Homo sapiens: one gene and its partners. The protein of the gene in region 1 purifies or fractionates together with the protein of each later gene. This does not show direct contact. Each region holds a gene or a part of one and is shown in the gene's direction. Other genes may lie near its edges.

Evidence for each region. Proteins that work in one complex are often made in the same cells at the same time.
Region 2: the proteins of KRT83 (region 1) and CEP20 purify together in Homo sapiens (affinity purification with mass spectrometry; one large-scale study listed by BioGRID and IntAct). This does not show direct contact.
Region 3: the proteins of KRT83 (region 1) and PAGE5 purify together in Homo sapiens (affinity purification with mass spectrometry; one large-scale study listed by BioGRID and IntAct). This does not show direct contact.
Region 4: the proteins of KRT83 (region 1) and ITPRID2 purify together in Homo sapiens (affinity purification with mass spectrometry; one large-scale study listed by BioGRID and IntAct). This does not show direct contact.

Annotation. Positions count from the first base shown.
Region 1 is NC_000012.12:52,317,917-52,323,424, reverse strand, and holds the start of KRT83 (keratin, type II cuticular Hb3), read left to right. Parts: upstream 1-2,026; 5' UTR 2,027-2,089; coding exon 2,090-2,473; intron 2,474-4,060; coding exon 4,061-4,269; intron 4,270-5,454; coding exon 5,455-5,508.
Region 2 is NC_000016.10:15,878,604-15,882,883, reverse strand, and holds part of CEP20 (centrosomal protein 20), read left to right. Parts: intron 1-2,995; coding exon 2,996-3,080; intron 3,081-4,280. UniProt on the Homo sapiens protein: Involved in the biogenesis of cilia. Required for the recruitment of PLK1 to centrosomes and S phase progression.
Region 3 is NC_000023.11:55,218,107-55,223,145, forward strand, and holds the start of PAGE5 (P antigen family member 5), read left to right. Parts: upstream 1-2,239; 5' UTR 2,240-2,346; exon of another isoform or gene 2,347-2,493; coding exon of another isoform or gene 2,494-2,545; intron 2,546-3,268; coding exon of another isoform or gene 3,269-3,276; coding exon 3,277-3,357; intron 3,358-3,660; coding exon 3,661-3,769; intron 3,770-4,514; coding exon 4,515-4,640; intron 4,641-5,039.
Region 4 is NC_000002.12:181,914,950-181,919,229, forward strand, and holds part of ITPRID2 (protein ITPRID2), read left to right. Parts: intron 1-266; coding exon 267-1,478; exon of another isoform or gene 1,479-1,650; coding exon of another isoform or gene 1,651-1,737; exon of another isoform or gene 1,738-1,888; coding exon of another isoform or gene 1,889-1,948; exon of another isoform or gene 1,949-2,056; intron 2,057-3,373; exon of another isoform or gene 3,374-3,521; intron 3,522-3,648; coding exon 3,649-3,726; intron 3,727-3,805; coding exon 3,806-3,933; intron 3,934-4,280.

The DNA of each region.
Region 1 (5,508 bases):
TGTGGAGAGCATTCCAGGTGCTCACTGGTTCCAGTGTGGGTGGGTGAAGAGCCTGGTCTTTCTTGGCTGTCTAGCAGATGTTTGACCCAACCAAGACTGAACATGACAGCACCAGCCAGCCCAGCCTCCCTCAAAGATGCTCCCAAAATCCCACTAGCCACTCAGCTGCAGTCAGCCACCCCCAGGCCCCCCAGGTACCCTCAGGCTGTGCCTCCCTGGTGTGTCTTTCACACCAGGATCCCCTATCACACAGCCCACACCCCCAGAGTTCCTGCCCCAGACACAAGACTCTGGAAGCCTGTCCACAGGACCCAAGAAGAGAGGCTAGGAGAGTCCTTTTTTTGGATCCATGGCAGATGTCCAGCTCCCTAAGAGATTTCAACAGCACCATCGCCTGCCCTCCCTCAGGCCCACAGAAGATGGGCCCCTCTTCCATCATCCCCAGATCCCCACTCTGGGATATAACTGGCCCACTCATCCTGAGCGGGAGTGGGAAGGGCAAAAGATGAGAGTCACAGGAGGGTTACTATTAGCCCAGAGTGGGTCAGTGTTGGGTTGTGGCTGGGTCAGGACACAGGTCCATCAGTGGAGTCCTCCTCATCCTCTCCTGACGAAAGCAGTCCAGAGATGTGTGTTTGGAAGGGTTGATGGGCTCAGGTCCTCGGGTTAAGGCAAACCTCCTGGCTCGGTCCGACTGTCCATCCATCAAAGCCATTGCCTGTCCTAACCCAAAGGAACAAGGGCCCAAAGTAAGAGAGCTTGGCTTTAGGAACAGCCACATGAGCTAGCACCCTTCTCTCACCCAGTGTGTTCTCTGAGGTGAGAGAGTGATCTCATTTAAGGACCCTGCTGATGTCCCTCACCTCCCGCACCTTCCCTCCTTCCTGGTGAGTACATACACCCCAAGACCCCATCACTGAGCTTCCCTGCTGGGAACCTAAAGAACACCAATCAGCCTGGACATTGTGAGGGCCTTCCCCCCATCTGTGGCTTCTCATCTTTCCCCCTAGCCAAATGTTGGCTCCCCCACATGCATGCTACCTCCAAACACCCCAGGTCTCTGTAGGATTTCCAGAACCTAGCACAGTGGCTAGTGCATAGTTGGTGGGCACCAAATAAGTATTTCCTGAATAAATGAATAAATGAATAAATGAATAAATGAATACACATAGTCTAGTCTGCAAATCAGAGCCAGACTCTTTTCTGGTCATCTCTCAATCCTGTACTACCCCACCCCAATCCTCCTCAAGCCCAGGTCCCCACTCTCCTCCATGAGTCCCTGGAGCTCTGAGGTATTCCACACTCCCCGCTCCTGATCCCATCAGCAATGACACCTGGAACTCTGAAGCATAGCCCTGGCACTGTCCTGAACTCTCTGAATCAGTTTCTTCCATGTCCCAGATGGTGTCCCTGCACTAGGAATACCCAAAGTGCAAAGAACATGCCCTCCTCCCACCCCAAATCTCTACCCCCACTCCCATCCTTGACCAGGCTCTGAGCAGGAATAGGATAGGAGCGGCCAATCTTGACAATGAGGAAAGGAACCCGCCTTTGAGAAAAAGACAGGAAAGCCTACAGCAAGAGGTTGTCTCAGAGGCAGCCCCCTCCTTGGGACAGGCCAGCCACTCCACCCCAGGGCTTGGCCATGGGTCCAGGGCCCATAGCCTAGCTCTGCCCCTTTCAGAACAGGGTTCAGAGAGCAGGCTTTACCCCAGGTCACTGCACCCATTCCCCTCGCTTGGACCGCAGAATGCAACTAATGCTTTCAGGAACCCCTCTCCCCGCTCCACAGCAGTGCCAGTGGGAGGGGCAGGAGCAAGGAGGAAGCTTATAAAGGGCTTTGAAGATGAAACAGGGCCCGTGGCCAGGGATTGTTGATGCAGCCACACTGAAGAGGCAAGCAGGGTTCTAGCTTAAGAGGCCAGGGTGATGCCAAGCCAATAAAATTCAGCTATTGTCTCTTTGCTCCCTCTTTTAACACCAGCTGCCCCTGGCACATAAAAGGGCCTGCCATCAGCCAGGGAGCACAGGCCCTTGGTTCCATCCTCTGCCATCTACTCCACTGTTCAGACACCTCCTAACCTCCGTCATGACCTGTGGCTTCAACTCCATAGGCTGTGGGTTCCGCCCTGGAAACTTCAGCTGTGTCTCTGCCTGCGGGCCCCGGCCAAGCCGCTGCTGCATCACCGCCGCCCCCTACCGCGGCATCTCCTGCTACCGCGGCCTCACCGGGGGCTTTGGCAGCCACAGCGTGTGCGGGGGCTTCCGCGCCGGCTCCTGCGGACGCAGCTTCGGCTACCGCTCCGGGGGCGTGTGCGGACCCAGCCCCCCATGCATCACCACCGTGTCGGTCAACGAGAGCCTCCTCACGCCCCTCAACCTGGAGATAGACCCCAACGCGCAGTGCGTGAAGCAGGAGGAGAAGGAGCAGATCAAGTCCCTCAACAGCAGATTCGCGGCCTTCATCGACAAGGTGGGTGTCGTCCTGGATCACACCCTTCCTGAACCCCTACTCATGTTCAGAACTCAGGCTGGGCACTGACAGGGAAGTCAAAGGCAAGAACTTGCCCACAGAAGTTCCCAGGCCAAAGGGAAAGGTAGTCATACTTCTAGGACACAGACAGAAAGACAAAAATGGGACCGGGAGCTACCAGACTGATGGGGGAGATTAACTGAAAACACAAAAGCAGAACGAGGGGCAGAGCCTTCCACACTGAGTGATAATATCACCTAGTGAGCAAAGGACCACTGTGTGGGCGCTCAGGGCATTTGAAGCCAAATAACTGCTTAAATGCCAAGGAGATGCTGTCTCCATCAAGGCAGGGCTAATAAGTGTGGTGCTGGAAAACTGTCTGGAAGTGGGTCTCGTGGATGGCACAGAACTCTTTCTATACCACACAGTGATTTGGCCACTGAGCAGGGTCTAGAGTATTTTGTCCAAGCCACTGTTCCTGGGGCTCAGGATCCAGGGGTGAGCAAGAGTCATGGTCCCCATCCTCACAGGCTTTATGGGGAGGCAGGCAGTGCACAGTCTGGGTTTGGTTGAAACCATCTGTGTAGTCAGTGTCCAACTAGAGTTTGCAGCCACCTTCTCCACTGAATCCAGGCAACCACCATGTGGCAGTGATGTGAGAGACTGGGAGAAAAGGCTCTGACTAGGAACATGTTCTGGGGTTGGAAAGAGCCCTCCAGAGCCAAAACCTCAAGAGAGGAGTCACACTAGAGAGATGCCCACCAGAAAGGATCGGGAAAAAAAAATGTGGAATTTCTAATAGCATGAGAGACCAAGGATAGCATAAGATAGGACCTACCAAGGGTGTGGCCAAGTTATTAGACAAAAGAAGCTGAGTGGAGTAGTGGGCCAACCTCATCGCTGGGAGAGGGATGTTCCTATAATTGTCAAAGGGAGAGAAGACACCCCCTGCAGCGCAGAAGATCGGAGTTTGAGCTCTTCTCTGCCACTGTGAGCTCTCAGGCAGTCAGGGAACCTCCTTGGCCTCATCAGTAAAATAAGGGGGTTGGAGCACAGGACATTCCTACTCTCATATTGCAGGTGACTATTATTCTAATTGCATTGTTGTTGTAGGGTTTGAATAATTGGCACATGCTTTATTTTTCAACTTTTACAGTTTGCCTTTCTAAAAAGGTCCACCTGGCTTGGTGTGATTGAACAGCAGTAGCTGTTCAGTGTGGGGTGCCTTTCTGTTAAAGGGTTCTTTTAATCCTCATAGTAAGGTGAGCTTTAACCTCGCCACTCTACAGAGGAGGTGAGTGCTTTATCCAAGGGCACAATGTTAACAAGTGGCAGCAGAATCTGGACTCTTCAAGCATTTTCCATGACACCAGGTAAACTGACTTAGAAGAGATTAACTCCCAGGAAGAACTTCCAGGTGGTGAACTGGTTAAGCCCTGGTGGCATTTTTGAGAGAGATGACATAACGCCTTCCAGGGAAGACTCTGGGTCAGAGAGTTGGGGGCTTTCAGGCCCTCGTGCTGGGAACCCCTCTTTGTCCTCTGATGCTGCAAGAAGAGGTTCTTAGGCTCTGCCTCTGGGTGGCAGGTGCGCTTCCTGGAGCAGCAGAACAAGCTGCTGGAGACAAAGCTGCAGTTCTACCAAAACCGCGAGTGCTGCCAGAGTAACCTGGAGCCCCTGTTTGCTGGCTACATCGAGACTCTGCGGCGGGAGGCCGAGTGCGTGGAGGCTGACAGTGGGAGGCTGGCCTCAGAGCTCAACCACGTGCAGGAGGTGCTGGAGGGCTACAAGAAGAAGTGAGTGTGGGCAGGAGGGGTTCTGGGCACAGGAAATAGCATGGTGGCAGCTCCCTGAGCCCGGAGGAGTATCCAGTCTGCAGCTGGCATCTCTGCCTGAGAGTGGAGAAGAACCTGTACCCCCTGTTTGAGACACAGGGGTCCCTTGGGTGTGGGGGATGGAGGCTCAGCTTGTCTTTCCACCAGCAGATCAGGGAAACAATGCTCTCTCCCTTTCTCCATCCATTTTTCACAAAAACTTGTATTCCTGGGTCCCTTTGAGACCAGATCTCAAAGTCCTGGACATGTGTCTTCCTAAGTTTGCTCTCTCACTCAGCTAACACTATCTGATCACCTACCACATGCAGCACGCTGTGCTGGTGATAGTGACACAGGGCCACGCAAGCCACACAGTGCGGGTTCTTGTGGAGCCTGCAGTCTGCTGGAAGGCAGTCATGACAGAGCCACAGATCTAGCCCTTCAGCTACAAAGTGTGATATATGGTATGAAGAATACGCACTGGATCCTCAGAAGGAATCTGCTTTTGAGGGGTGGCCAGCTTCCTTCAGTAACATTCTCTCCATGGACTCCCCAGGCCCAGCATACCCCTCCCTCCCTGTCTCTGAGCTGCCTCCCACAGCTCAGGCCAGGAGGGGAGAGACAGAGCGAGGATCCCACCACCTGCAGCTGAGTGGGGGCAGGGGAGGGCTCGAAGGAAGAAAAGATGGAGACCTAGGCGAGAAAAACAGCACCTCCCACTCCCCAACCACACACATTCACACACTCAGCTTCCAGATCCTGCTCTCCCAACCTCCACCAAAACAGGGGAGTGAATTAGCCAGGCGTGGTGGTGGGCACCTGTAGTCCCAGCTACTCGGGAGGCTGAGAGGGGAGAATGGCATGAACCTGGGAGGCGGAGCTTGCAGTGAGCCGAGACCGCGCCACTGTGCTCCAACCTGGGCGACAGAGCGAGACTCCATCTCAAAAACAAAAACAAAAAAAAACAGGGGAGTAGGCACTTCATTTCTCCAGTGCATCCCAGTAGTACCCAGGCCAGCAGCCTGGTTCCTGCAGAGCCCCACCCATTTCACTTGGGGGCAGGAGACAAGCAGGGGGAGGTCTAGGAAAGAGACTCCTTTGCATATATGCTCATGGCCAAGATCAAGAGCTGTTCAGACAAGGTCCTGTTCTCCCTGCTCACCTCAGGTATGAAGAAGAAGTAGCACTTCGAGCCACAGCAGAGAACGAGTTTGTGGCTCT
Region 2 (4,280 bases), on another chromosome or scaffold:
ACAGGCTGGTCCAACTCCTGTCTCTTAAAAGAAAAAAAACTGTCCCTGTCTATATATAGATATGTAGATATATGTCTATTTGTGTGTGTGTGTGTGTGTATCTAGATAGATAGATAGATAGATAGATAGATAGATAGATAGATAGATAGATATAATGGAGATAAAACTTTGAAATATTACTACTATGTAGTGCTTAGGTACATTTACAAATGTATGTATCTAAAAGCATGGTATTTATAAAGGACTAGGCTGGTATATTAGGTTGTTTTTGGATTGCTATAAATAAACACCTGAGACTGGGTAATTTATGAAGAGAAGAGGTTTTTTTGTATGTTTGTTTGTTTGTTTGTTTGTTTTGAGACAGAGTCTTGCTCTGTCACCCAGGCTGGAGTGTGGATTGATCTCGGCTCACTGCAACGTCTACCTCCTGGGTTCAAGTGATTCTCCTGCCTCAGCCTCCCAAGTAGCTGGGACTACAGGCCATGCCCAGCTAATTTTTTGTATTTTTAGTAGAGACAGGGTTTCACCGTTAGCCAGGATGGTCTCAGTCTCCTGACCTCGTGATCCGCCCTCCTCGGCCTCCCAAAATGTTGGGATTACAGGCGTGAGCCACCGCACCCGGTTGAAGAAAAGAGGTTTACTTGGCTCACGGTTCTGCAGACTGTACAAGCATGGCACTGGCATCTGCTTAGCTTCTGGGAGGCCTCAGGGAGCTTTTGCTCACTGCAGCAAGCACGTTACATGGTGAAGGCAGGGGCCAAGGGTGGGGAAGGTTAGTGCCACACACTTATAAATGACCTGTTCTCATGAGAACCCACTCACTGTGGTAAGGACAGCACCAGGCCATGAGGGATCCACCCCCATGACCCAAACAACTCCCGCCAGGTCCCACTTCCAACACTGGGGAGTGCGTTGCAACATGAGATTTGGGCGGAGACAAATATCCAGACTCTAGCAGCGGGAAACTCCAAACTCATCCTAGTGATAGGAGGCAGAGAATGATATTGGGGGTTGGGGGTGGGGAGATAAAGATAAATTCCCTTTATCTGTTGAATTTTATTTCTTGAGAAATAAATTTGCTCTTCAAGTGTAACAGTTATTGAGTGGTGAGAATATTTTTAATATCTTCTGCTGACTTTTAAATGTCTTCTTTCAAAAAAGTGAGGAGAGACTGGATGGATATAAATAAGTCAGAATCCTGGTTACCCCTGGACTTGGTGGGGTGGGGGATGCAGCTGGGGGTTGGTCTGAGGCACCCTGAATGTGTGTCATCGGATTCCCTCGTTTCAGGTTCCATCTCTGCTTTGACTACTTCATGCCTCAGCAAAGAAGCGAGGCCAGGAAGTAGATTTTGCAAGAGAGAATGAATTCTTTGTGAAGTTAGAATTTTTCGTTACAGATCCTTTATTTAATATTAAACATACGTCTGAACTACATAAAGACTCATGATTTTTATGGTTTAAGGATCTTTGATATCAGCATCTCTGCTTTCCTTTGTTTGTTATAGATGGCTGTATGATACCAGTTACACCCAGAAAAGAAGAAATTATGAAAATAGTGGGGACTTGGGATTCACTAGAATGAAATATAGTGACAGTAGTCAAGTTTTCATATTAAATGGTTTGGCTTTTTTTAAAAAACTGGGATATAATTTACATACAATAAAATTTACCTTTTAAACTGTACAGTTCTGTACTTTAGTCAAATGCCTGCAGTTGTGTAATTACTACCAGATCACAATCAAGATATCACCAGCCTTTTTGGCACCAGGGACTGGTTTCATGGAAGACAATTTTTCCATGGACCTGGGAGGATGGTTCGGGATGATTCAAGCATACTCCATTTATTGTGCATTTTATTTCTATGATTGTGTTGTAATATATAATGAAATAATTATAACTCACCATAATGTAGAATCAGTGGGAGCCCTAAGCCTGTTTTCCTGCAACTAGATGGTCCCATCTGGGGGTGATGGGAGGCAGTGAGAGATCATCAGGCCTTAGATTCTCATAAGGAGTGCACAGCCCAGATCCCTCGCATGTGCAGTTCACAATAGGGTTCACGCTTCTATGAGAATCTAATTCTGCCAACAGGAGGCTGAGCTCAGGCAGTGATGCTAGTGATGGGCAGCAGCTGTAAACACAGATCAAGCTTCCCTCACTTGCTTGCCCACTCCTCACCTCCTGCTGTGTGGCCCAGTTTCTAATCTGTGGCTCGGGGGTTGGGGACCCTTGCTGTAGATGGAACCGTACATGATGTAGCCTTTTGAGTCTGCCTTTTTTCACTTAGTGTAATACATTCAAGATTCAGCCATGTTTGTTTTTCCTTTGAACACTGTTCTATTGTGTGGCTGTGCTAGTTTGCTCATCTATGACCAGTTGATGGGCATTGAGTTGTTTCTAGTTTTAGCAGTTAGGAATCAAGCTGCCATAAACATTTACATACAGGTTTTTGTGAGAACATAAGTTTTCATTAATCTTGGGTAGAAAGCTAAGAGTGAGATTGCTGGGTTGTGTGGTTAAGTGCACGCTCACCTTTATAAGAAAACTGCTCAACTGTTTTCCAAAGTGCCTGTACCATTGTGCTTTCCCACCAGCAAAGTGTGAAAGTTCCAGCTGCCCCACACTTCAGGTTAACTTTAATTTTTATTTATAAGTATTGTCACCAAGTGGATATTCTTTTCAAAAATAAGTTATTGATAAACAGACTTCCAAAATTTAGTATTATAATTTGGATATAGAAATGGTATTTTTCCAACCAAACACTGGGGAATTTAAAAAGTGAATTTATGTTAAACTGTATTAAGACATGCATTTAACAAAAGAGATATTTTGAAAGTCATAAAATCACAGGCAATTTGATCTGTCTTGGTGTGTGTTGTCATCATTCTTCCAAAATCTAAAAAGTGTATGTCTGGTAAATGTGATTCTTTTCAAAATCTTATTTGCTTTTTAGTTTAATAGACTGAGTGTTCTCATGAATTTATTTCTCCCAGAATCTGGTCAACCTGTAGTTCCGTTGGACAGACAGTTTCTCATCCATGAACTAAATGCATTTGAAGAATCAAAGGATAATACAATGTAAGACATTTTTTTAAAGAAGTTTCCACATATTGTATTGAGTCATAATTGCACCATGGTGGTTTTACTTCATTTTAATTCAAGTATTTATTCAGATCTAGTGTGTGTCAAGCATTGTCCTAAATCCAGGGTGTGCAGCAGTGAATAAGTCAGATGAGATCTGTGTTTGCTGAAGCTACAATTACATGGCTTCAGAGTGACTCAGCATCTTCTTTCTGGAGTTAGCTCCTTTTGACTTCTTGATCCTTTGTCCTTCTAAGGCTTTGTTTGTTTTTTAATTTATAATTTCAACTTTTATTTGTATTTTCAAATTATTTTTGTAGAGGCAAGGCCTCGCTTTTTTGCCCAGGCTGGTCTCGAACTCCTGACCTCAAGTGATCTTCCTGCCTTGGCCTCCCAAAGTGCTAGGGTTGCAGGTGTGAGCCCTCCATGCCTGGCCTCTGAGACTTTGCCTTGTCAGTTGTTTTCTTCATATTTAACTCTTCCTTCACTCCAACTTAGGAATGTACTCAGATCTCTCCTCTCCTAAAACAAAAACAAAAACAAAAACAAAAACTATGAACTTCCAACCCCAAGCTTCTGCTCGAATACCTTTTTCTACCAAGATTACTGAATCAGCCCACTGCTTTCGTTACTATTACTCTGTCCTTTGCCCTCTGTGTACCTCCTCTCACCAACTATGCTCTTGAAAAGGAGGATGACCACTTTCTAGTTTTCTTAGTTTTTTTCTATTTCAGTGTTTCTTAAACTTTTTCTGGAGAGTCCCTGTATAGCCAAAAAAAAAAAAAAAAGTACATAGGAGACCTGAGAACATAGCTTAAAGCAGCCTTTTTTTAAATCTAGAACTTTCTTTGAAGCCTTACGTTTTCTCATCCTAAAAGTTCTTAAGGCCAAGTGAGGTATCTCGTGCCTGTAATGCCAGCACTTTGGAAGGCTGAAGTGGAAGGATCACTTGAGCTCAGGAGTTCAAGACTAGCCTGGACAACATGGGGAAACCCCATCTCTAGCCAGACGTGGTGGCTCATGCCTGTAGTCCCAGCACTTCAGAGGCTGAGGCAAGTGGATCACCTGAGGTCAGGAGTTTGAGACCAGCCTGGTCAACATGGCGAAACCCCATCTCTACTAAAAATAACAAAAAGATTAGCAAGGCATGGTGGCGTGTGCCTGTAGTCCCAGCTGCTAGGGAGGCTCAGGCATGAG
Region 3 (5,039 bases), on another chromosome or scaffold:
GCTTTTGGCATCTTCGTTATGAAATCTTTGCCCATTCCTATGTCTAGAATGATATTGCCTAGGTCGTCTTCCAGGATTTTTATAGTTTTAGGTTTTATACTTAAGTTCTTAATCCATTTTTACTTAATTTTTGTATAAGAAGTGATCCAGTTTCAATCTTTTGCATAAGCTAGCCAGTTATCCTGGGACCATTTATTGAATAGGGAATACTTTCTATATTGCTTGCTTTTGTTGAGTTTGTTGACGATCAGATGGTAATAGGTGTGAGGTTTGCAGCATTATTTCTGGACGGTGTATTCTATTTCATTGGTCCATGTGACTGTTTTGGTACCAGTACAATGCTTTTTTGGTTACCATGGCCTCATATTATAGTTTGAAGTCAGGTAATATGATGCCTCTGGCTTCATTCTTTTTGCTTAGGATTGCCTTGGCTATTCGGGCTCTTTTTTGGTTCCATATGAATTTTAAAGTAGTTTTTTTTTCTAATTCCACGAAGAGTGTCATTGGTAGTTTAATAGGAATATCATTGAATCTATAAACTGCAGTTTGGCCTTTTGACAACATTGCTTCTTCCTGTTCACGAGCATGGAATGTTTTTCCATTTGTTTTTGTCATCTCTGATTTCTTTAAGCAGTGTTTTGTAGTTGTCATAGTAGAGACTTTTCTCCTCCCTAGTTACCTGCATTCCTAGGTATTTTATTGTTTCTGTGGCAATTGTGAATGGGATTGTGTTTCTGATTTGGCTCTGACCTTGAAGGTTGCTGGTGTATAGAAATGCTCCGGGTTTTTGTACATTAATTTTGTATCCGGAAACTTTCCTGAAGTAGTTTATGAGATCAAGGATCTTTTTGGCAGAGAATCTGGGATTTTCTAGGTATAGAATCATATTGTTTGCGAACAGAGATTGTTTGACTTCTATGAAAAACATAGTGAAGTGAAAGCAAACATCTGTCCAGAAGGGAATAGAACAATAAAAATGCCCAATAATAAATTTAATTTGAATGTGAAGAACTAATATGAAGCAAATAACACAGTCATTGTGAGGGATACATAAAAAGACTTGAGGAAATGAGGAGTGGCTTTTTCTTGGATAGAGAAATTCTAAAATAGAAAGATAGATATTGTCCCTAAGTTAAGATGTAATTTAAAAATAATACCTAGTGTCTCACCTGGAATATTTTAGCACCTGATCAAATGATTCTGAAGTTCATCTGAAAGACAAATGTGTCAGAGTAGACAGAAAAGGAAAAAGCAATGAGGGAGGGCAAGCATTATTTCGCATTACAAATATAATTAAGCTACAGCAATTAAAATAGTATACTAGTGGTACAGGTACAAACGACTCAATGGAAGAAAATTAAAATAAGAGAGTTACATACAAAATTGAGTGGGGATGTAGGTGATGATAAAAGAGCCACTTCAAAACAGTGGGTGAAACAGGGATTCAACAAATGATGTAGAGTCCCTACCACTTAATTTTGTTCAGATGGATCAATTTTTTTTTTGTTTGTTTGTTTTGTTTTTTTTTTTTTTTTGAGATGAGGTCTCACTTTGTTGCCCAGGCTGGAGTGCAGTGGCACGATCTCGGCTCACTGCAACTTCCACCTCCCGGGTTCAAGCAATTATCCAGCCTCAGCCTCCCGAGTAGCTGAGACTACAGGCGCGTGCCACTATGCCCGGCTAATTTTTTGAATTTTTAGTAGAGATGGGGTTTCACCATGTTAGCCAGGATGATCTCGATCTACTGACCTCGTGATCTGCCCGCTTGGGCCTCCCAAAGGGCTGGGATTACAGGCGTGAGCCACTGCGCCTGGCCCGGATCAATGATTTTGAATGTACAATCATGCAACAAAAACTATGAATGTCTTATCATATTGGAGTGGGTAAGATCATTGCAAGCATGACAGCAGACTCGCGAAGGCACAAGAAAATGATTTATGAAAGCAGATATAAAATGGGTATTAACATATATAATATTTATTTCTATGATGGCGAATTTGTCCGAAACACATTGTTTTCTTAGAGTAACCTGGGCCTCATATTCTCCAACGCCATTGGAAGTGAAAGGAAGGTTGGGCGGGGGAAAAAGAAAAGTGCTTTGTAAGTTCATTTTCGTTGTCAGAAGAGCTTGTGGTTTAGGTTCTCCACAGAGGCAGGAAACCTTCAGTCACGTGGCAAATACCCCACTGAGTGCGCATGCTGCACAGATCTGTTGCTGCGCATGCGCCTTTCTGCCCACCTTCTGTCTAGGCAGAGCTCTGCAAGGAGAGGTTGTGTCTTCGTTCTTTCCGCCATCTTCGTTCTTTCCAACATCTTCGTTCTTTCTCACTGACCGAGACTCAGCCGGTAGGTCTGCAGAGTGGTCTTCCTGGTAATTTAGTTGTGAGTGAATGTGTGGAGGAGCCAGCGGGCTTAGGACAGGTCCCGTGGCACAGTCCGTGGCTTTGAGGGAAAAGGGCCTCGCGGTGGTCCTCCGCCTTCCCCCAGGTCCTGATGCAGGCGCCATGGGCCGGTAATCGTGGCTGGGCTGGAACGAGGGAGGAAGGTAGGCCGTGGAGGGGGTAGATCGCCTGAAGATGGTGCGAGTCCTGGGGGTGGGTGCTGTTAGAGGTGTCTGAGTCCCGAAAACGCCTGGAACTCTCTGAGGGAGGACAGTTTCTGGACTCTTCGTTAGGGATGCGAGAAGGGATGGTGTGGGTGGTAAGGAAGGGGCCAGGAAACTGGGAACGCTGTGGGCTGGTGACTACGGCCCCGAGGTCTGTAGAGTGCCTGGCAGAGGTGTCCAGTGAGGAACATAACCTTAACTCTGTGTCGCAACTTCTCATCTCAGCCATGGACCTCATGGAAAGGAATGGTTGAGGCTGTGCATTCCAACAAAACTTGATTTTTCGGGGAGTGGGGAGGAGGTGGTGGTGGCCCTAGTATATCAGAGTGGGAGGAAAGCAGCAGTCACTTCAGTTTCAATTTTCTGCCCGTTTTTTTCCTAAATGTGTAAATGATGGAGAGTCTAATTGTGAAGCCAAAACTCAGAAAAGTCCTCTGTCTTTTGCTATGGCGTTAAGGTGTTTTCTGTGCCTCTTCGACTATGATACAAACAAATCTGTCCTTAGTTTGATTGGAAAGCATGCGTACTTATCAATGCTCTGTGACTTAGTTTGAAAATATTTTCAAAATTAAAAAAGTACAAATCACCATTTTGCCATGGAATGTTCATATATATAGCTAAGTTCTTACACACTTTTTCCAAATAACAATATTTTGTTTTCAGTGAGAGATATGAGTGAGCATGTAACAAGATCCCAATCCTCAGAAAGAGGAAATGACCAAGAGTCTTCCCAGCCAGTTGGACCTGTGATTGTGAGTCCTTTAGCATTTGATGTTTTCTATTAACACATTTTATTTTAAAAAATATTTTTGAGCGAGTGTACATGCACTGATACAGGTGTTCCATGCTAATAAAAAATGATGATGGCATCTCATGAAGGCAACTTTGGTTCAGGAATATTATATTCTGGTGTTGCCTTATGGATATGGATATTTTACTCTCTCTCTATATATATATCTATTGGAAAATGTCTTTAGATTTATGATTCGATGCACATATGCATTTGTGTGTTTATATTATTGACTTTTTATTCGCACACACACTTACACCCTTAGGTCCAGCAGCCCACTGAGGAAAAACGTCAAGAAGAGGAACCACCAACTGATAATCAGGGTATTGCACCTAGTGGGGAGATCAAAAATGAAGGAGCACCTGCTGTTCAAGGTGAAGGGAGAGTGGAGAATAATGCTTATGGGTGGTGGAGGTCTATTTATGCATTATATTTTGTGACATACCAGTAACAGGAGGACAGAAAACATTAGGAAGGAATCTTAAACATTTCTTACTGCTGCTGTGCGGAGGGGTGGGACAAGGACACATAAAAAGCCACAAACTTTCCTACCATTTTGACGGAGGCTTTTTATTGATTGGGTATTTGCATGGTTGCCGTAAACCTTTGAGTGTTTTCCAGAGTTCCTGTATGGTTTGTTCAGCTATTTTCTGTTTTTTGTTTTGTTTTGTTTTGTTTTATGCTTCTGTGGAAGAATGGCAGCTTGCAGCTTCCTAGTCTGCCATCTGCGGACATCTCTCATGTATTTTTATAAGATACTTTTTAACACATTTATTAATGCTTCCTCATGCTGTGTAATATACTAAGCGCCGGAGATGTCAGTGCCAAATTTTTGCCTAAAGCTCATAGTCTAGTCAGACTGACTCAAACAAATCACTGATTTAATGTGATAAGAATAAGAACAAATGAGTACAAAAGGAACAAGTAAGTTGTCTAGGGCCAGCCTTGGGAAAGGAAAGGGCAATGTTTGAACATTTCTGCTTTCCTGCTTTTCTGGCAACAGACTTCTGAAATAATTAGCCTACAGGTTTTTATTTCACAATGATGAGGGAATAAATATTATTACCTCGTTCATAGTTCATATTTTAATTCGTAAATTGACGACTTTTTATCTTTAAGGGACTGATGTGGAAGCTTTTCAACAGGAACTGGCTCTGCTTAAGATAGAGGATGCACCTGGAGATGGTCCTGATGTCAGGGAGGGGACTCTGCCCACTTTTGATCCCACTAAAGTGCTGGAAGCAGGTATGTTATTCAATAAGATGCAAATTATAGGGTTTCTATTTTCACAATATTGTATTTTGTGTGACACAGAGGTAAAATTACTGCTACTTTAATATCATACTTCACATCTAAAGATTCTTTGAAGGTAGTTCAGACCCCAAATGGCTGCCTTACACACTATCAGAGATAGAAGGCCAGGTGTGGTGGCTCATGCTGTTAATTCCAGCACTTTGGGAAGCCGAGGCAGAAAGACCACTTGAGGCCAGAACTTCAAGAGATAGAATAAATTGGGTCAAAGCTAATTGAGTTACGATATGAAAGATATGAAACATGCTAAGAGAGTAGATTTTGAGTGTCTTCACAGCTATATGAAATAATGCATATATTAATTAGGTTGAGCCGTTTTACAATGTATGTATA
Region 4 (4,280 bases), on another chromosome or scaffold:
AGTGTGTTGTATTGAAAGGAAAGGGGGAGGTTGTTGGAAAGGGAATTTTAGGAAAACAGTGAAGTTCTGAAATAATCTTTGTGAGAAAGTGAGAGGAAGGAGGGATGTGGTTGCTGCTCAGGAGCAATAAAACAATTTTGAGCAACAGCAGGGCCACAACTGCAGTGGAGACAGTGAAATTATAGAAGCACCATGTTGGTTTGGTATTTTGTTAGTGACTCTTCTTACATATATTCTTCATCTTTCCACCTATTTTCTTTTCACAGGTTCAGGAGTCCTTGCAGGCTATGGGGAGTAGTGCTGATAGTTGTGACAGTGAGACAACAGTTACGTCACTTGGTGAAGACCTTGCCACACCAACAGCACAAGACCAGCCTTATTTTAATGAATCAGAGGAGGAGTCTCTTGTCCCTCTTCAGAAGGGACTAGAGAAGGCAGCAGCAGTTGCAGACAAAAGAAAATCAGGTAGCCAGGATTTCCCTCAGTGCAACACCATTGAGAATACAGGAACTAAACAGTCCACCTGTAGTCCAGGGGATCATATCATTGAAATTACTGAAGTGGAAGAGGATTTGTTTCCAGCAGAGACAGTAGAGCTACTGAGGGAAGCAAGTGCTGAAAGTGATGTGGGTAAAAGCAGTGAAAGTGAATTTACTCAGTATACCACACACCATATTCTGAAATCATTGGCTTCTATTGAAGCTAAATGCAGTGATATGAGCTCTGAAAATACAACTGGGCCTCCCTCTTCCATGGACAGAGTTAATACAGCTTTGCAAAGAGCTCAAATGAAGGTTTGCAGTCTGTCTAATCAAAGGATGGGGCGTAGCCTGCTAAAATCAAAAGATTTGTTAAAACAAAGGTACTTATTTGCAAAAGCTGGCTATCCTCTAAGAAGGTCTCAGTCTTTACCAACCACCTTATTGAGCCCAGTAAGGGTTGTGTCCTCTGTCAATGTTCGATTATCTCCAGGAAAAGAGACCAGATGCAGCCCACCTTCCTTCACCTATAAGTACACACCTGAAGAGGAGCAGGAATTGGAAAAGCGGGTGATGGAACATGATGGTCAGTCTTTAGTTAAATCGACCATTTTCATCTCTCCATCATCTGTGAAGAAAGAAGAAGCCCCCCAGAGTGAGGCGCCGCGGGTGGAGGAATGCCATCATGGAAGGACTCCTACCTGTTCACGGCTTGCTCCACCACCAATGTCTCAGTCTACCTGTTCCCTTCATTCCATCCACTCTGAGTGGCAAGAAAGGCCCCTGTGTGAGCACACAAGAACTCTGAGCACTCACAGTGTTCCCAACATATCAGGGGCTACTTGTAGTGCCTTCGCTTCCCCTTTCGGGTGTCCTTACTCACATAGACATGCCACCTACCCTTACCGAGTGTGCTCTGTGAATCCTCCTTCAGCCATAGAAATGCAGTTGCGAAGAGTATTACATGATATTAGAAACTCACTGCAGAATCTTTCACAGGTATGAGAAAAAGTATGTTATCATTAGCTTTTTTCTTTTACTGCTCTGAGCACTTTTTAATTCACAGAGAAGCTAAGGCACATCAAGTATGAACTACCTCAGCTTTATTTTCTGACATGTCTAAACTTAATCTGCATCTGCCTTCGTTTTCTATCTTCCCTCCTGTTTCAAGGGAGAAGCTGTAACTAACCCTGATCAAAGTCGATTTCTCTGCTCACAAGTCTGTCTCCTTTCCAAGAGGAGAGATTTTTCTCGTTAAGTATCCTCCCATTTTTAGTCTATCATCCACTGTCTTTGTTTTAGTCTAGAATCTTTTGTCATTTCTATTATTAAAAAATCTTCCCTCTTAAAGTTCTTTCTCTCTTTCTCTCTGCTATTTGAACATGTTGACTACCTTTTCCTTTTCCAAGTTTTCTCCCTGTTGGCTTCTGTGGCACCACGTTCTCCTGGTTCTGCTCGTAGCTCTCTGACTAAGCTTTCCCCTTCACCTACTGACCCTCGATGCTGTGCACAGAGTTAGTCTACTTCCACTGGACTCAAAGACTGGAACTACTCCAGACCAGAAAATAACAAATCAGGTAAAGTGTGAATTTGATTTAAAATGCTCTGTATGTCTTGTCACTTTTAAAGTCATTCTCAGATTTGTTAGTAGACTGGAAATAATTTTCCCAAAAAAATTTTGAAAATAAGTACGTTGTCTTCAGTTTTGCCTTTTACATTTTCTTGAACATTCTCTCTGAATGAATCATGTTTAGACAATTGAGGGATTGAAGAAAATGACAATGTAATATAGTCATGAGAGCATTCAACAAAGAGTCAGGAGGCCTAGAATGAATGTAATAGACCTCTTATCATGACATAGTAGACAGGGAGCCACTTGGAAAGTAAAAATCAAAGGTGTAACTTCTCAAGTTATAATAAGATATACCTCCTCTTAACTGTAAGTTTTATCCTCATGACAATTGTCCCCTAACAGTTTTCTGTTTAAACAGAATGTGGGTGTTTCTTATTCCTCCTTACAAAATATAGTTCTGTCTGTGATGGAACTTGCAGCTGTGATTATGTCAAGCTGGGGATTTCCAGGACCCTGTCCACCAGTACCGTGGTGCATCTTTCTAGGCCACCTAGTTCTTCTGCTCCAGCTGTGGTCTCTTTCTCCTGGATATCCCAGCAATAACTCAGCTAATACATCTCCCCATGCCTACCCCACCCTACACTAGTGGACAGGTGCTTTCTATGATGTGGTCTCTGACTATCTCTCCAGCCTCATTCCTTAGCTGTAGGATTGTGCACAGGTCTCTAAACAGTTGTGTGTTCTTAGGTATCTGCACATGGCTGATTTTGTGTTTTGTTTTTTTAAAATAAAAAGATGAAGTTTCTGTTTCTCGCCCACGTGGAGTGCTGGAGACAGTGGTGTAATCATGGCTCCCTGCAGTCTTGAACTCCTGGGCTCAAGTGATCCTCCTGCCTTGGCCTCCCAAAGTACTGGGACTATAAGCCACTTTTTTTTAACCGAGATCACCCAGTCTTTGCCTTTCTTTGCATAATCAAGCCCTATTTACTGTTAAGGCTCAGTTCAAGTAGTGTTACCACTTTTGGGAAAGTTCACGTAATCTGAATTTTTCTGTGTTCATCATAGCACTCCTTCCACAGTATTAGAATTTTTTTAAAATTTCCTTTATTTTTCTTTACACTGTGAGAACACCTGAAGGCTGGGAATACCTTTTATGTTTTTATCTCACTGCCTAAAATAGTGGCATATAGGAAATGCTAAGATGTCTGAGAAAGACGACAATGATTGCTTGCTCTCCAGCAAAGTTAATAATCACTATAATCTCATGATGATATTTGCAATGGCTTCTACATTTTTGCGTTTTGATTTTGTTTTTTTTTAGTTTCGCAAGAGGGAAGTCCTGAAAGAAATAGATGTGAACTATGTTCCTTCGCCTCCTCCTCCCACGTAGATTGACTTATACCTGGAACAGCTAGCAGTACTAGGTGTCATTGGGAACTGATTTCTTTTTTCCTGCTTACAATATGAAGGTTTTTTGGATCCTTTTGTCTTAAAGAGAAAAATATATAGGCCCCAAATTCTGCCTTTTAACCCCTTAAGTGATTTGGAAGTATTCACTTTAACATTGGTTTTAATCCTACTTTTACTTTTTTGAAGTACCCTATGATGAGAGGACCTGATCCTGCTGCTGCTCCATATAGTACTCAGAAATCATCTGTTCTACCTCTTTATGAAGTAAGTTCTTTCTTACATCTTTGTGTTCCAAAATAATTTGTAGAATTTAGAAGTGTAATTTTGTTATATTGCATTCTAGAATACTTTTCAGGAGCTCCAGGTAATGAGGCGGAGCCTGAATTTGTTTAGAACACAAATGATGGATTTAGAATTGGCAATGCTGCGTCAGCAAACCATGGTTTATCATCATATGACTGAGGAGGAGAGGTAAAAGTTCATTTTGTCTTAGCACACCTCAAAAAGCTTTTCATTCAAAGTCTTCTCAACTTATATTTTTTAAAATTAGGTTTTGATTCTACTGCTGTGTACCTTGTATCTGTTTTGTGAACCAGTGTAGATAAGATTAGTCATAGATAGTGTTTTACTAAGTAAACTTGTATGCCTTCAATATCCTAAGGGTAGTGGTAACCTGCTTTCCCGTGTTTGAGATATTTGTGAGAGGATAGGGGAAGAAAGACTAATGTCCTTGTGGATACACCTATTGTAGTTGATATTGTACTAATTTCTAGAACCTGAGATTTCCATGCCTTCTGTTAGCATATAGTAGTTGTTGA